2 separate regions of the Homo sapiens genome follow, and region 1 is linked to region 2. Evidence: fine-mapped expression QTL. A gene starts in region 2. The other region holds a variant in brackets. All regions are shown on one strand. Distances are between the middles of the regions. Region 1 holds the start of PIEZO1-AS1 (PIEZO1 antisense RNA 1). Region 2 holds the start of PIEZO1 (piezo type mechanosensitive ion channel component 1 (Er blood group)).

Region 1 (8,000 bases), 42 kb after region 2:
AGGGAGGGCAAGTGTAGGCAGCAAGAGACCTTCCCCAGCAGAGGGCAGAGAGGAGGCCAAGCAGGACCAGGGGGCGTGACTGTGGAGACAGGCTCTTGGGTGCCGCCCTTCTGGGAGGTGCTGGACGCATCAGGCTGGCAGCGTCGGGGCCTGTCCATGGCTACGAGGTGTCCACCGGGCTGCGTTTTTCCAGGGGACTCTGGGGAGGATCTGCTTCCTCTTCCAGCTGCTCCAGGTGCCTACCTTCCTGGGCTTGGGGCCCCTCCCTCCATCTCCAGAGCCGGTGGGGTGGGGTCAGGATCACACCCTGTCTCTCCTGCTCCCTCTCCCCTGCGGTAACCCTGTGGCTTCGTCCCATCTGCCTCCCCGGCTAATCCAGGCCGACTTCCCTGGTTTAAGGTCAGCTGTTGGGCAGCCCCCATTTCCTCTGCTGCCTGGACTCGCCTCTGCATGTGAGCTTCTGCGTTCACAGATTCTGGGGACTGGGGTGCAGGCATCATTGGGGTCCATCGTTCTGCCAGCTGCAGGTGGAAGGTCGCTCTCCGGCCTCGCGACATCTGGCTGGAAGCATCCCAGAGGCTCCTCCTAGCTCGTGGTGCTGTGGGGTGGGCAATGGTCTTTTTTATTTATTTTTTTTGAGATGGAGTCTCACTCTGTCACCCAGGCTGGAGTGCAATGGCACGATCTGGGCTCACTGCAACCTCCGCCTCGCGGGTTCAAGCGATTCTCCCGCCTCGGCCTCCCGAGTAGCTGGGATTACAGGCGCCCACCATCATGCCTGGCTAATTTTTGTGTTTTTGTAGAGACAGGGGTTTTACCATGTTGGCCAGGCTGGTCTTGAACTCCTGACCTCAGGTGATCTGCCCACCTCGGCCGAGACTACAGGCATGAGCTACCGTGCTTGGCTTTTTTTTTTTTTTTCGAGTGGGGGTCTTGCTTGGTTGCCCAGGCTGGAGAGCAGTGGCATGATCATGGCTCACTGCAGCCTCCACCTCCTGGGCTCAAGCGATCCTCCTGCCTTAGCCTACCAAAGTGCTGAGATTACAGGTGTGAGTCACTGTGCCCAGCGCAGGCACTGATCTTGGATCATGGGTAGAATTCAGGGGTGCAGAGAGGCATTTTGGGAGGGGCCCAGTGCGGCCGAGTGCTGGGAGTCGCTGGGGCCCGAGGCCCAAACCCCTCCAGGATGCATGGCTGGGGTGGGTGGGCACCCCCACTCCCGGTCCCTATCCTGGGCCTCCCCTTTGCTCTGTGGAGCCGGTTCTGTCTGTTCCCAGGCCCCTGGCGTTTCGCCGTTTGTTCCGTAAATATTTCATGCCCAGGGCGCAATTGGAAACACTTTCCTTTAATCAGCAGTGGGGGAAGGCAGGCGCCCAGCCAGGCCAGGGGAGGAGCTGGGGTGGGAAGATTTGGAGAGGACCCGGGAGGACTTCCCTGCCTGAGCCTCGTCAGAGGCCCTTCAGAGACGGAGATGCTGCCCAGTTTTCCGGGAGGGAGAGAGGAAAGTGTGAGGCTTGCCCGAGCCGAGTGCCCGGGGCTTTATGATTTGTGCAGCTGCTGGGCTTGGCGTGGCCCTGGTGGAAGCTCTGACGCCATCTGAGCCTTGGTCCCCTTGTAGGCGTCAGCCTGATCCTTGGGGGGCTGGAGGTTGAGCTCAGACTGAACAGGGAGGAGAGGGGTAGGGGCTGGGGCTGGGGCAGAGGGAACAGACCCTGGTGCTCCAGGCAGGGCTGCAGGCAGAGCCACAGGGGGTGGCTCCCAGAGACCTGCTTGTCATTTAGGGACTCAGAAGCCCCATCCTGCCTTAGGATAAAACCCACCTCCAAGACTGACCCTGCTGTCTGGAGAGAGATCACCCCCCACCTCTTACCATGCCCCGTGCAGGGAGGCCCTGCCACCCTCTCCAGCTTCACTGGTCCCCCGGCTCTGCCAGCCTTGTGTAGTCTCCATCCTCTGTCTCAAAAGGCCCCTCTCGTGGCCCTACCCCGCAGCTCAGCCCTAGCTGTCGCTGGGTGGGCCTCATGGCTCAGCCTCAAGGCACCCTGGGTCCCTTGGCTGGTCCCATGCACACCCCATGGATCAGGTTCCAGGGGGCTCCCATGCACACCCCACGGATCAGACTCAGGGCAACTCCACACTCCCCACAGAACAATCAGGCCCAGCCCTTGTCCGGCAGGTGTGGGGATGGTGGCTATGGACCACGCATCAGGATGCTGCCGTGGTGGGGCCCCTCAGCCTTTGCAGGCCGTGCCGGGGTCCAAGGGCTCCGGCTCTGGGGGAGGTCCATGCTCTGTCAACCATCCGGTCTGCAATACCCTGGGGCCTCCCCGCCCCTTCCTGTTTCCTCCTGAGAGCCCTGCAAGCTGGAGGGGGAGCCCCGGCCCCTTTTTTTTTTTTTTTTTTTGAGACGGAGTCTTGTTCTGTTGCCCAGGCTGGAGTGCAGTGGCGCGATCTCAACTCACTGCAACCTCCGCCTCCTGGGTTTAAGTGAAAGTGATTCTCCTGCCTCAGCCTCCTGAGTAGCTGAGATTACAGGTGCCCATCACCACGCCTGGCTAATTTTTGTATTTTCAGTAGAAACAGGGTTTCACCATGTTGGCCAGGCTGGTCTCAAACTCCTGACCTGAGGTGATCCACCCACCTCGGCCTCCCAAAGGTGTGAACCACCACGCCAGGCCCCCTGCACCTTCTTCTGGGTGGGCAAGAGCCATGCTGAGCCCCTCCCCTGCCATGGATAGGGGTGGCAAGAATAGTCCATTCCCCATGGGCTCCCTCCGGCAGGCAGCGGATGGGTTGGGGCCCACACAGTGGTTCAGGAAAGGCTGAAGGGCGGTTGCCGGCCAGAGCTGGGCGGGTCCCTGGCCTGAGCCTCCTCTCACTCCCTTTCCCAGGATGGAAAGGCCACTGTGAGCTGGGTGTGTCCTGCCAGGAGGGAGTTGGAGTCGGGGGCAGGAGACCCACTGGGTCTCCTGGGCTCCTGGAAGAGGCAGCAGTGGGTCCCTGCGGAGGTGGCCTGATCCCCGGCTCAGCCTGGTTTTCCCAGCTTTGCATTTGGGGGTGGGACCTGCAGGGGGAGAGTGACGGGGTGGGCGGGGACAGGGGCTGCAGGTGGAGGCACGAGAAAGCCACCCGACCCCTTGAGGTCATGCTGTTTGCGTCGGAGAAGAGGGCCGGTGTCAGGGTGCCCCCTCGGCCTCTGTGTGCACCTCCCCGCTCCCCGCCCCGTGCAGGTCAGCAGAGCCTCGATCCCTCTGCACGTTCCGGCCCCCTCCCATCTCCAGCAGCGTCTCTTCCCGGGGTGCCCCTCGGACTCTCAGCTCCCTAGTCTGATCCAGCCCAGGCAGGGAGCGGGCGTGCCACGTGGCCAGGAGTGGCCTCCAGGCCCAGCTGCGGCCCCTTCGACCCTG[C/G]GGAGGGATCATGGCCCAGCTGTTCTAACATGGCCAGACCAGGACACTCTGGCCGGCCCGAGAACTGAACCGGGAAGGAGGCAGGGAAAGGGGAGGGAGGAAGACAATGGGGAAGCAGTGACATCCGAGATGTAGCCAGAGACGGACATCCTGGACTGTCGTGCAGGGCAAGGCGGGTGGGCGGGAGCCAGGTGGCCTGAGAGCCCCTCCCTGCCCAGGGGTCTCTGGTCAGGCAGTTCCTTCCCGGGCTGCTGGATCGTGTGTGCAGGGAACCCGTCAGCCTGGCTGCCCAAGGGCCCAGATGTCCTCTCAGTGCCCGGGGGTCCTTGACAGCCCCAGCAGGAGCCCCACGTGCCTGTGGGGCAGGCCCCGCAGGTCCCTCTCTGTAGGACTCAGAATACCTTCTCCAATGCCACGTGCTCTCCCTGAGTGCCCAGTGCCACAGAGGGCCCCGCTGGCGAGGTTACTTCAACGTCAGGCTAGAGGGTGCAGCGAGCAGGACTCACAGCCCAGGTTCCCAGGCAGGTGTGGCAGGAGCCCATTCCCTGGGTCGGTGTTCTCATGTCACCCCACGGTGACCCTGCTGTACAGAGGCGGGGGCGCGGGGCCCCTGGCTGGTGCCCTCCTGCTGCCAGACTTGTGCTCTGCTGAAGAGGGGCTGGCGCGGCAGGTATGAGCCCGGCACGGAGGTCGTGAGCAGTGAGAAGCCTGGCACCTATGGGTTCGGGGCAGGGAGGCCCTGGAAGGTCCTGTCCTCCGGGAGCCCTGCACAGCACCCCCTGGTGGTGGCTCCTGTTCGTGTCGGGGCTGCAGCCTCCCTTCCTGGACGGTTTTCCATTCCTCCTTCCCACTCTCCCTGCTGCTCACCCCTCCCATCCTCCACAGGTCAGAGGTCATAGCTGCAGGGTCAGCAGGTCAGGGCCTGGGGCAACCCTAGGAAGGTGTGAGTGTGAGAAGCTGGTCCAAACCTGCCTCGGCTGCCTGGTGGTGCGGACAGGGAGTCCTGGGCATCCGTGAGGGCTGCTTCACGGTCAGGCTTAGGGATGTGCAGGGTGACTTGGACGTGGGTCATGAGTCTTTGCTCCAGAAAGAGGGGGCTGAGTGTCCAAGGCCAATCCCGAGTCTGTCACCTAACACCATTTGTGCTCAAAAAACTGAACAGAGTGGACACAGGCCCTGAGTTTGCGCCCCGAGGCCGAGAGAGGGCAGATGTGGTGGTGACATTCACCACCTTGGACCCAGACCCAGATGCTACCTGTCCCTGAGCTCCAGGAAGTTGTGAGAAGGGCCTGAGCTGTTCTGCACTTTCTCGTGGCCGGGCGTGGCTGGTGGTGCAGGAGTTGCTGCCCCAGGGTGAGGGCCCGGAAGCTCCTGCCAGCACGTGCCGGGGTGGAAAGGGAAGCTGTCCACAGCCCTGTCAGGACTCAGAACCCGGTGGGTCAAGGACTTTGGTCCGGACCCCTGCTGAAGGGTGAGCTGTCCACATGTGCGCCGAGAGCAGAGGTGAAGCCAGGGCTCCTGAGTGCCCCCAGCCACAGGGTGCGCCCGCCCAGCCCCTGCCCTGCAGCCGAAGGCCTCCCTGCTGGGGGGCTGAGTCCAGTGGGGCCACAGGCAGCTGGGAGCAGGACAAGGCTGCCAGGCAACCAGATGGTGCTGCCGCTTCCTGCCAGGTGTGGGTGCACAGAGAGAGAGAGGATGCCGGTCTGGGGCCTGACCTGGTGCACAGCAGGTGCCTGAAATGCCAGGGTGGCCATGGGGACTGGGTACCATGCATAGGCCATGCATCGGGATGCAACTTCTCCTTGCAGCCCCTCAGCCCCAGGGAGGCAGCTGCCTGCCCCACTTTTCTCCAGAGCCATCATGGCCCTGCTCCCACCCCAGCCACGGCTGCTCAGGGGCGCTCCGCATGCTCTGGTCTCCATCCACCTGCAGCCCCCACTGGGGTGAGGTGGAGCTTCTTGCCTCTCCTTGTGTCTATTTCCTCTGCTTCCACAACTGAACGGTGACAGGTATTTGCTGGATGAGGGAGCACACCCCAGGTGGTTTCCTCTGAGCCTGGGAGGCCTTTTCCTGCCTGTGGGCCCCAGGCCCATCCTGCTGCCACCCCCAGGAGGATGCCCGGCTCCTTGTGACAAGAGTGACCCTCGGGAGGCGTGGGGAGTGGGGCTGGCCGGCCTGCCTGATGGGGTCCTGAGTCCATGGCGGGTTTGCATCTCAGGCCTCTGGGCTCTGGCCGGGCTGGGGGCTATTGTCCGGCTGAGCGGCCTGGGCTGCGGCCCCTCCCCGTCCCCGGGACCAGCCTCACCCACTCGCTCTGCCGCAGGTCACACAGGCCGCCTCCTGCGGGCATTGCTGGGCCTCAGCCTGCTCTTCCTGGTGGCCCATCTCGCCCTCCAGATCTGCCTGCATATTGTGCCCCGCCTGGACCAGCTCCTGGGACCCAGCTGTGAGTCGCTGAGGGGGCGGGGTAGGGATAGCCATCCTGGGGGTCAGGGAGAGGGCCCTGCAGTGACCCCGAGTCTCCTGGGGGGGTTGACTCAGCCTGATTTATGTCTGGCCTGGATGGTCCAGGTGAAACGCTCCAGGGATGACCAGGCCACGGTGCTGGCTGGGCAGAGCCTGACCTGGGTTCCCCCGTCTTTCTCTGCAGGCAGCCGCTGGGAGACCCTCTCGCGACACATAGGGGTCACAAGGTAAGACCATTCCTCCCACCCCCAACCAGCAAGCCTCCCTTGGGGATTTCAGGCCCCAGGAAGTGGGGGGACCCAGGAGGGACAGAGGGGGACCTGGAGACTCATCCACACTCCCACCCACACCTGGAGACCCATCCACGCTCCCACCCACACCTGGAGACCCATCCACACTCTCACCCGCACCTGGAGACCCATCCACACTCCCACCCGCACCTGGAGACCCATCCACACTCCCACCCGCACCTGCAGACCCATCCACACTCTCACCCGCACCTGGAGACCCATCCACACTCCCACCCGCACCTGGAGACCCATCCACACTCCCACCCGCACCTGGAGACCCATCCACACTCCCACCCGCACCTGGAGACCCATCCACACTCACACCCACACCTGTCCTCTTGGTCTGACCGCGGCTGCTCCCTGCTCTCCGCAGGCTGGACCTGAAGGACATCCCCAACGCCATCCGGCTGGTGGCCCCTGACCTGGGCATCTTGGTGGTCTCCTCTGTCTGCCTCGGCATCTGCGGGCGCCTTGCAAGGAACACCCGGCAGAGCCCACATCCACGGGAGCTGGTGAGGGCAGCTGCGTCACCCGTGTGTCAGGGAGGTCATTCGAGAGCTGTGGTCTCAGCCATTTTGAGGGTTATTTTAATCTTTTTAAAACAGATGTAGACGTTTTGGTTGTAAGTTGGTGTTAAAGAGAGGAGGAAGTTCCAAATCCCACCCCGGGGCCCAGCCTGCAGTTCCATCCGTTCAGACCTGTTTCTACTCGGGCTCTGCCTCTAGTCAGAAACCTCCACGCCCCGACATGGCATCTGTGCCCTTAGGAACTCTTCACAGGGGAATTATTTGGGGCCACGCGGTGGTGGAAACCTGCAGTGCTGGGCAGTGGGTCTGGCTGGAGAGCCACTGCAGAAGGGCTGAGAAGGGGCGGCCCCAGCAGGCCCCATGCACTTACAGGCAAACAGGCTGTCGGCCCAGAGCCCCAGCAGGGGCCTGGACCCCAGGAGCGACGGGCCTGAAGCAGGGCCTCTGTCCTCGGAGTGGGAGGCAGAGTGAACTTTAGCTGCTACAAGACTTGGAGGTCCGGCCCCGGGAATCTCTGAGCTATGGCCCCCTCACACGGACAGGGCATGAGCTGGGGCCTGCGACACCCAACGTTGACTGCTCAGACCCTCTCGTCCCTGCCTGGGCCCACACTTGCCATCCCCAGGCTCAGCCAGGATTTATGGCCACCTGGGTGTCCTGGCCCACGAACTCCCTGCCCCGGGCACCCAGCCTCCTCCCACCTCACCCTCCCAGTGCCCACTCGTCAGATAGCTGATGCTCGCCACGCACATGGGCCTCAACTTCTAGAGGAGTCCCGAGAGGGAAAGGGGTTCCCCAAGCCACACGGTAGGTCGAGTACACCTGCTCAGCCTGCAGAGGCGGCCTGCCCTCCTGCCTGTCCTGTCGCCACCCCATGGGGCAAGGCTGGTGCCCGCATTTCAGAAGTGGGAACGGGGACCTGGAGGTCAAGTGGCTTTTCCGGGCATTTGAGGGGGTCCAGCGCTCATGAGGACTGTGCTGCTGCCTGTCCTCCAAGAGACCCGCCCCTCCCTCGTCAGCCCCTCCATGCTGATGGGGGCATGGGGCATGAGCTTCCTAGAGTTTGGCTGCTGGGAAGGGGCTGGGTGGCTGGACTCTGGTCATCTTCATCTTGGTGTGATGGGAGCCTGAGTGTGCAGCTGCGCCCTGGGCGGCCAGCGTGGACAGACTTCAGAGTGAGCTGGGGGCACCAGGCACCTGCAGGATACCGTTCCGAAAGATCTAGAAGCCCCATGACCCGGCCTGGCAGGGCCCCCGGGCGACCCTCACTCCCACATATGGGCAACACACACACGTGTTTGCAGGCATGC
Region 2 (9,356 bases):
CAAGGAGTCAGGAAAGCAGTATGTGGAAGACACAGAGACTGTGGTTGCCTCTGGGGAGGGATCCTGGCTGCGAGGGAGGCATAGAGTCCACTGCTTGAAAATCGTTTCTTGTTTGTTTTTGTTTTTGAGATGGAGTTTCACTCTTGTTACCCAGGCTGGAGTGCAATGGCACGATCTCGACTCACTGCAACCTCCGCCTCCTGGGTTCAAGCAATTCTCCTGCCTCAGCCTCCCGAGTAGCTGGGATTACAGGCATGCGCCACTACGCCCAGCTAATTTTGTAGTTTTATTTGAGATGAGGTTTTGCCATGTTGGCCAGGCTGGTCTCGAACTCGCCACCTCAGGTGATCCTCCCACCTCGGCCTCCCAAAGTGCTGGGATTACAGGCACGAGCCACTGCACCCAGCCTGAAAATTGTTTTAACCACGTACATATTTCTTAAAATTGTCTATCATGGTCAAAGTACATAATATAAATGTACCTTTTAAATCATTTTTAAGTGTCCAATTTGGAGGCATTAAGCACATTTACAATGTTGTGTCAACACTACTATTTCCAGAACCTTTTTATCACCCCAAAGAGAAACTCTGCCACTGTTAAACAACAGCTGCCCACTTCCCCCTCTGGCCTGGTAACCACCCTCTGCTGTCTGTCTCCATAGACATTTCACGTACACAGAGCCACATGGTGTCTTCCTTCTGTGCCTGGCTCCCTTCCCTCCACGTCCCCCAGCCCCGTGCTGGCGCGGTGGCTCACACCTGTGATCCCAGCACCTTGGGAGGCCAAGGCAGGAGGATCGCTTGAGCCTGGGAGTTTGAGACCAGCGTGGGCAATATAGCAAGACCCCATCTCTATGGGAAAAAAAATTGGCTGGGTGTGGCAGTGCATGCCTGTAGTTCCAGTTACTTGGGAGGCTGAGGTGGGAGGCTTCCTTGAGCCTGAGGTCCAGGTTACAGGGAGCCATGATTGCACCACTGCAATCTAGCCTGGTAGCCTGGGTGACAGAGCGGGACCCTGTCTCACACACACACACACAAGTTCATCCCTGTTGTAGCGTACATCAGAGTTTCATTTCTTTTTATGGACAAATAATATCAGATTGTATGAACAGACCACATTTTGTTTCTACACTCCATTAACAGACTCTGGGGTTGCTGCCTCTTGAAATTATTATTTATTTTATTACTTTTTTTGAGACAGGGTCTTGCTCTTTCACCCAGGCAGGAGTGCAGTGGCATGATCTCAGCTCACTGCAATCTCCACCTCCTGGGATCAAGCGATTCTCCCGCCTCAGCCTCCCGAGTAGCTGGAACCACAGGCATGCGCTACCATGCCCGGCTAATTTTTGTATTTTTAGTAGAGACAGGGTTTCACCATGTTGGCCAGGCTGGTCTTGAACCCCTGACCTCAAGTGATCCACCCACCTCAGCCTCCCAAAGTGCTGGTGTTGCAGGTGTGAGCCACAGTGCCCGGCCAAAATTATTATTATTTTTGAGACAGGGTCTTGGCCTGTTGTCCAGGCCGGAGTGCAGTGGCGCCATCACTACTCACTGCAGCCTCCACCTCCTGGGCTCTAGAGATCCTCCCACCTCAGCCTCCTAAGTAGCCGGGACCACAGGCAGGCACCACCACATCTGGCTAATTTTTTTTTTTTTTGAGGCGGAGTCTCGCTCTGTCACCCAGGCTGGAGTGTAATGGCATGGTCTTGGCTCACTGCAACCTCTGCCTCCCGGGTTCAAGCGATTCTGCCTCAGCTTCCCGAGTAGCTGGGATTACAGGTGCCTGCTGCCACGCCTGGCTAATTTTTGTATTTTAGTAGAGACAGGGTTTCACCATGTTGGCCAGGCTGGTCTCGAACTCCTGACCCTGTGATCCACCCGCCTCAGCCTCCCAAAGTGCTGGGATTACAGGCATGAGGCACCATGCCTGCCTGGCATGCCTGGCTAATTTTTATTTTTTGTATAGATGGGGTCTTGCTGTGTTGTCCAGGCTGGTCTCCAACTCCTGGCCACAAGCCATTCTCCTGCCTTAGGCCCCCAAAGTGTTGGGATTACAGACGTGAGCCACCACACCCAGCCTGAAATTAATTTTTAAGTATAGACAAGTAATGGTGACTATGTTATCATTGGGGAAAAAGTTACAACCTGCATGATAAAGCTTAAAGTCCCTGTGACCCCTCTTGCCCTGGCTTTTCCTCTCTCCCAAGGGGACCTGACCATTGTTGCTCTCCCAAGACTAAGTCACTGGCCGGGCATGGTGGCTCACACCTGTAATCCCAGCAGTTTGGGAGGTCAAGGCAGGCGGATCATTTGAGGTCAGGAGTTCAAGACCTGGCCAACATTTTGAAATCCCATCTCTACTAAAAATACAAAAGTTGGCCAGGTGTGGTGGCACACGCCTGTGATCCCAGCTACTTGGGAGGTTGAGGCAGGAGAATCACTAGAACTCAGGAGGCGGAGGGTGCAGTGAGCCGAGATTGCTCCACTGCACTCCAGCCTGGACAACAGTGGCAGACTTTGTCTCAAGAAAATACAATAAAATAAAAAATAAATCACTGTTTTAAACAGTGACAAAAATAAAAAGCAACAGCAAGTTGAGAAAGGGCTCCCAGCTGTGGGTCAGTGGGACAGGAGTGACTTTGGACTTGGAATCTGGAAAGCTGGGTGCAAAGGCCGGTCTATTCCTTTGGCAAATGGTTATCCCGCTCTGGCCCTTAGCGTCCTCTTCTGCAACAGGGGTTGAGTTAGAACACGGTCCAAATTCCTGAACGGGCAGTGAACTGGGCACAGGTGGGCTCCCCTGCCCTTGCCCGCCCCACCTCTCCCTGGCTGGCAAGCAGAGATCTTTTTCAGAGTATTTGTCTCCATTTTGCTAATTTTATTTTGTGAATAAGTGAATTATGTATGAAGCAAAATATTAAAACAGCACCAAAGGGTATAGGTGAAGACCAGGTCTCCCTCCCACCCCAAGTGGGTGAGCGTGGCCCTGAGTGTAGCTGCTTGCTTTTCCCAATTGTTAGCACTGTAACTTAGCAATTGTTCCTCCTTGATAACAGAGCAATTGCGGGATTCTCTCTAACCGCTGCTACAGAGTGCCATTGTATCTTAGCTTCATGTTGATACAAAACACCTAGCCGGATTCTGTTTTTTACCTGCTGTGTAGCACTCCACTGTGAGACACGCTATCATTTATTTGACAAGCTTCTGTGGGCAGAGTTTTTCTGCTTTTTGCTGCTTGAACAATTCTAGGACACATACATCCTCTACCTTTGCAAGTCCATCTGCAGGGCAAGCTCCCAGACTTCCCCACCTCTGCAGCAACTTTTCAAAGCCTGACCAGAGGGTGAGACTTGCAGAGAAAGTAAATCAGCCTTTTTTTTTTTTCTTCTTTGAGATGGAGTCTCATTCTGTTGCCCAGGCTGGAGTGCAGTGGGGTGATCTCGGCTCACTGCAAGCTCCGCCTCCCGGGTTCACGCCATTCTCCTGCCTCAGCCTTCCGAGTAGCTGGGACTACAGGCGCCCGCCACCGCGCCCGGCTAATTTTTTGTATTTTTAGTAGAGATGGGGTTTCACCGTGTTAGCCAGGATGGTCTCCATCTGCTGACCTCGTGATCCACCCGCCTCGGCCTCCAAAAGTGCTGGGATTACAGGCGTGAGCCACCGCACCCGGCCTATATCAGCCTTTAAACACTAGACTTCCCATGAAAATCTCCATTTCTGGGTGGTTTTTTTTTTTTTAATGGAGTTTCGTTCTTGTCACTCAGGCTGGAGTGCAATGGCATGATCTCGGCTCACGGCAACCTCTGCCTCCCAGGTTCAAGCGATTTTCCTGCCTCGGCCTCCTGAGTAGTTGGGAATACAGGCGCCTGCCATCACGCCCGGCTAATTTTTGTATATTTATTTATTTATTTATTTATTTATTTATTTATTTATTGAGACGGAGTCTGGCTCTGTCGCCCAGGCTGGAGTGCAGTGGCGCTATCTCGGCTCACTGCAAGCTCCGCCTCCTGGGTTGATGCCATTCTCCTGCCTCAGCCTCCCGAGTAGTTGGGACTACAGGAGCCCGCCACCACGCCCGGCTAATTTTTTATGTTTTTAGTAGAGATGGGTTTTCACCGTGTTAGCCAGGATGGTCTCGATCTCCTGACCTGGTGATCCACCCGCCTCGGCCTCCCAAAGTGCTGGGATTACAGGCGTGAGCCACCGCGCCCGGCCTAATTTTTGTATTTTTAGTAGAGACGGGGTTTCACCATGTTGGCCAGGCTGGTCTCGAACTCCTGACGTCAAGTGATCCCCCGACCCCCTACCCCCTTGCCTCAGCCCCGCAAAGTGCTGGGATTACAGGCCTGAGCCACTGCCCCGCCATCTTTTTTTTTTTTTTTTTTTTTTGAGCTGGAGGGTGTGGGCTTGTGCTGGGCTCTCATGAGTTGCCAGTGCCTTGAGGCTCAGTGGCCACAGTCCCCCCAGCCCCACTCCCTGCCTTACGCAGCTGAGTTTGAGAGCCATGAACTGAGCCCAATTAAACGGTGTAGAGCCCTTTGCCCTCTTTCTGTGCCCATCTCAAGGGCAGACGAAGGCCAAACTGACGTGGCCTGGGTGAGGGTCCCGAACACCCTGGACTCAGACCCTACCTCTCCGTGGCAGGGCGCCGCGGCAGCAGGTGCACAGGCCGTGGCTCTCACTCTCACCGTCTCACGCCAGAGCGACCCGGGCAAAGCCGCGCGCGGTGGCCGGCGTGGCTGGGAGCAGCCCCCGAGCCCCCGTCAGACCAACGCGGATCGCGGCACTGCTGCGACCCGAGCATCCCGCGTGCTCCCTCCGGGACCACTAGGCCCGGCCGCCGCGGGAACTCCGAGCCTCCCCACGGTCCCCAGGGGGCGCTGCGTGCTCGCGCCTCGGGGAGCAAAGCGAAAGTCGCTCGGGCACGCGGGGTGCAGTTGCGCGTGGGGCGCTGCCTGGGGGAGCCAGAGGCCCCGGGACCCCTTATGTAGCGCCCGGGCCCCAGCCGCAGCCCACCCAGCGAGAAGCGCCCCTGCCCACCGCCGCGCACGCTCGGAGCCGCGGGGCCAAGACTGCGGGAGGGGAGGGGTCCGCTCCGGGCCAGCGCCAGTCGGGGGTCTCCAGGCCCCAACGCACCAGGGCGGGCCGGAGGCGGGACGGGCCGCGCGGGACAGCGGAGGGGGTGCCTGGGCGCGCCGGGCCGTCGGGGAAGCGCGGAGGCGGGCACGCCGGGGAGGGCGGGAGGGGGCCGAGCTTATAAAGGCCCGCGGGCGGAGGAGGGCGGGAGCCGCCGTCCGGCCCAGCTCGGCCCCAGTGAGCCGAGCGCTGCGCTCCGCCGAGGGGCAGGGCGGTCGCCTGAGCGAGCGCGGGCCCGGGACGTCGGCACCGGCGGGGCGGCCGAAGGAGAAGGAGGAAGAGGAGAAGGCGGCGCGCGGGTCCCCGCGGGTCAGCCATGGCGCGCCGGCCCCGGGGCCCCCGCACCGCCCCATAGCGCCGCGGCGTCCGCTCGGTCTGGGCCGGGCCCTGGGCCCTCCAGCCATGGAGCCGCACGTGCTCGGCGCGGTCCTGTACTGGCTGCTGCTGCCCTGCGCGCTGCTGGCTGGTGAGTGGGGGGCGGGCGCCTGGGGGCGACGGGAGGGGGCTGCGTCTCGGCTCCCCACGGCCTGGACACCGGACGACGCCGGCCGGGGCGAGGGCTGCGGGCGAGCGGGCGCGGAAATTCCCAGGGACGCGCGACCCGGGCGCCCGCATTCCTGAAGCATGAGCGCGCCAGGCGGCGGCGGGGCTCCTGTCCCAGGGCCGGGCTGGAAGGGCGGCGGCGGCTGGGGGAGACGGCACCGCGTGCCCACGGGGGCGGTCGAGCGAGCGCCGGGCATAGCGCGGCTGGCGTCTCCGCCGGGGCGCTGCGGAGAGGAGGCCGCCGGGCGAGGCGGTGTTTGCCCCGGTGGGAAGGGCCGCGGCGGTGGTGGGGGGAGCACGAATCTCTTTTTCTCTTTCGGGTTTAAAAAAAAAAGCGCAAAGTTGCATCAGGACTTCCTGACAATCTGGGAGAAGGCGGGCTTCCTGCCTGGAGCTGTTTAATTTGGAGCTTCCCGAGCCCAACGAACGTCCGTGCCCAGGGCCCAGCCCCGCTCACCGCTGCACCCCCCTCTGCCGGACTGAGGCGGTCCCACACTTTGGAAAAAAATAGTGTGGGTTCCTCCCTGGTCCTCCCTTGCCCTACTGGGCTCAGTTTCGCAGGGGCGGGGGCCGGCCTCTGCCCTGGTCTGGGGGAGGGGACACCCCCGGAGGCTGTGGCCTGGTGTCAGGGCGGGGCAGGGGTCCCCAGTCCTGGCATCTGTGTTCCCTGCTTGCCGGGCAGTGGTGCCCCTTTCGCGAAGCACACCCGGGTGGCTTGGTGCTGCACGGCCTGGCACCCCTACCCTTCCCCGACCCTGGCCTAGCCGGGACCCAGGGTCCGCGCCCTCCGCCCGGGGGCTCCCCACGTGTGATTGATCTGGGAAGCAGTCGGATGGAATTAACCCACGGACAAGTGGGACGGTTTGCATTGGGAGTCCGCCATGGACACGGCAGGTGGGGCCTTTTGATTGTAAAAGCCCTTTCGGAGCCCTTGCCTCGCTCCAGGTGGGAGCTCGCCCAGCGCTAGCTTTGGGGATCTAGAGCCGCCTGCCTGAGGCTCCCAGACAGACTGCGTTTTGATCGGTCGCACAGAAAGGTGGTGAAACTTGGGGAAGATTTTCTAGACAGGAATCAATGAAAACCATTGAGGCTGGAGAGGAGAGGTTTTGAGCAACTCTCTTCAGTGCGGTCAGCCCTGTGTGGACTGGGCAGCCTGGGACCTGCTCCCAGTGCAGGGTCAGATGGGCCGTAAACAGGGCCCGGCTGTGTTCCTTCCTGTGCCTTGAAAACAAGCAGGACAGCCTGGCACAGAGGCAGAGTCTAGAGCTGACAGGCCTTAGAGAGGGAAACAGGAAAGCTTCTGAAACGTCCCGTTCACACTGATCGTTCCATTTCCTCTTGTGTCTGAGTGGGAGCGGGTGTCCTCCCTGCAGGGAATGCCCCCCCTCTCAGATGGCAGCTGCTCCTTGGGCAGAGTTGGCAATGTTTTTCTTTAAATGACCAGATGGTAAATATTTTCATGTCACAAAATCTTCTTCTTCTGGTATTTTTCCAGCCATTAAATGTAAAAGCCCTCCTGAGTTCATGGGCTGTACCTAAACAGGTGTTGAGCCCGATTCTGTGGCACATGTGGTTTGCTGCCCCCTGGGCATTGGTCAGGGGGCCTGGGTTCTGCCTTCTCGATTGCTATCCGCGTGGGGGATCTGGGGGAGGGATCACTGTTCTTCTTGCTTTTGGCCTCCTTGGGGAGGATGGGGAGGTAGCCCAGGGGTGCTCACCCAGGCCCCGTGTCAGTCTTCTATGAAACTTTTAAAGAATAGTGATGACTGACTGTCTGTCTGTATGGTACTTTCCTTAAACCTAAAACTGGTCCCAAATAAAGTCTCTTAATTTGAAAGATGCTGAAGCCCGGGCCATACCCCACACTGATTCTGTGTCTGGGGATGGGGCGTGGGGCCTGGGCCTCACTCAGTGTTTTCTCTCAGTCACCTGGGGGAGATGGAAGTGGAGCCGGCCAAGAACCCTGCCTGCCTGCCTGCTGGCCGGGACTCCTGAGTCAGGCTCTCTGGCCCTGGGGTGTGGGCAGCTCCAGATGGACCCGCGATGTGCAGGTTCAGCTGGCCTGGCCGGAGGTGGGACACTGGCTTTGCTGTCTTTGGAGTGCCCCCTCCCTCTCTGGCGAGCTTTGGCTGGAAGCAGTTCTACCGTGTTTTGGAAATGAATGAGGCCTTCAGAAGGCATTAGTCAGTGTGTGCCTGCGCTGGCTCAGACAGTGCCTGGTGAGGGTTTGAGTCATCCTGGGGTGCCCCTGGCCCCCACGCCCTCCCTCTCCAGTGCAGGATCATTACCCAAAAATCTGGCAGGGAGCTGCCCCACCCACAGGGAGCAGGGGCCTCCTTCAGCAGTCTCACCTAATGTTGCTGGAGCCTTGGGGGATCAGGGCCCATCTCTTCTAGAGAGATGTCAGGGCAGGGCTGGGCGCGATGGCTCACACCTGTAATCCCAGAGCTTCGGGAGGCCAAGGTGGGAGGATTGCTTGAGCGTAGCCATTCGAGAGCAGCCTGGGCAACGTAGAGATCCCCATCTCTATGAAAAATATTTAAAAATTAGCTGGGCATGGTGGTAGTGCACCTGTAGTCCCAGCTACTCAGGAGGCCAAGGTGGGATGATTGTTTGAGTCCAGGAGTTGGAGGCTACAGTGAGCCATGATTGTATGACTGCACTCCAGCCTGGGTGACAGACCCTGTCTCAAAAAAGAAAAAGGAAAAAAAAGGGCAGGACATTTGTGATTCTGATAATATGGGACCGCACCTCCAGTTCTATCAGTGGGAAATCTAGACAGGGCTGCGGAAAGCCAGCTGGTGCGAGAGGAGCCACCGTGTCACTGACTGTGGGACACCCACGTGGGCTGACAATATGGCTTCTGCTTTTCAGGGTGCCTCGTGGCACAGCCTAGGGGCACACCCACGGCCGGCAAGCTGGGCGTCACCTCCTTCAGGCTGATTGTCACTGAGAAGTGTCACCATTTAGCATGAGGGATGCTGCCTCCTTTTTCAGAACATTGTCACCATCAGGGTCTCACCACTCCTGGGAGGCGGCCGAGAAGCTGGGGAACAGCAGGCACTCGGCTCACAGTTGCTCAGCAGTGCAGACCCTCTGAGCTGAGCATGGCAGAGTCACCCTTCGGAGGCCTGTGCCCGGGTCTCAGGACCTGCACAGAACCCTGGCCTGTCCCATCCGAGGGTGCTGGGAAGAGCATGGCCGTGGCAGAGTAGGGTGGGAGCTGCTTTCCTCTGTGGCTTGGGGGCCCCTTCTGAGCATCAGCTCCCTGGTGTGACAGAGGGGCGCACTCTGTCCCCATGCTGGGCCTGGAGGCTGGATGAGTCAGCAGGAGAGCCTGGGGCCTGCCTCACAGCACCAAGGGCTGCAGGTGTGAGTGTGCACATGTGTGCGTGTTTGGGGAAGGGGCCAGGGACTGCCCAGGAGCTGAGGATGGGTCACAGCGGGTGCTCGTCCCGCAGCGGGTCACTGGTGCCCAGGACACAGGGAGCTCCAGCCCCAGCTGCCAGGGTCCCACAGAGAGGAAGTTTCCTCTGGGGGTGGGTGGGGGCGCACAGTCTCTGATCCTGGCCCCAAGGCAGCTTCCTGGGCGGTGTCTCTCCTGTGCTGACTCGGCAGTGCATTTGCTTTCGGTGCTCAAAGATGAAGGGGAACCACCGTGGGCCTTGACGGCCTCAT

What was found. PIP is the estimated chance that this variant, and not a neighbour inherited with it, causes the effect.
Region 1: its variant is fine-mapped to the expression of PIEZO1 in pancreas (GTEx, PIP 0.92).

What each region holds. Positions count from the first base shown.
Region 1 is chr16:88,740,153-88,748,152 of GRCh38, reverse strand. PIEZO1 (piezo type mechanosensitive ion channel component 1 (Er blood group)) reads left to right here. Exons shown (of 51, transcript NM_001142864.4): 3 at 5,731-5,853; 4 at 6,058-6,100; 5 at 6,537-6,675. HSALR1 (HSP90AB1 associated lncRNA 1) reads right to left here. Exons shown (of 3, transcript NR_103774.1): 3 at 6,728-8,000. It overlaps PIEZO1-AS1 (PIEZO1 antisense RNA 1), which reads right to left and starts at 5,386. Exons shown (of 3, transcript NR_120387.1): 1 at 4,663-5,386; 2 at 3,809-4,561; 3 at 2,405-3,064. RefSeq lists a silencer at 2,526-2,585 and an enhancer at 3,603-4,289. The variant C/G (reference allele first, on the strand shown) is at 3,408.
Region 2 is chr16:88,781,146-88,790,501 of GRCh38, reverse strand. PIEZO1 (piezo type mechanosensitive ion channel component 1 (Er blood group)) reads left to right here and starts at 5,282. Exons shown (of 51, transcript NM_001142864.4): 1 at 5,282-5,601. The coding sequence starts at 5,538. RefSeq lists enhancers at 5,138-6,051, 8,534-8,613, 8,624-8,993, 9,014-9,153, 9,194-9,323 and 1 more and silencers at 4,784-5,113, 5,154-5,633, 6,134-6,453.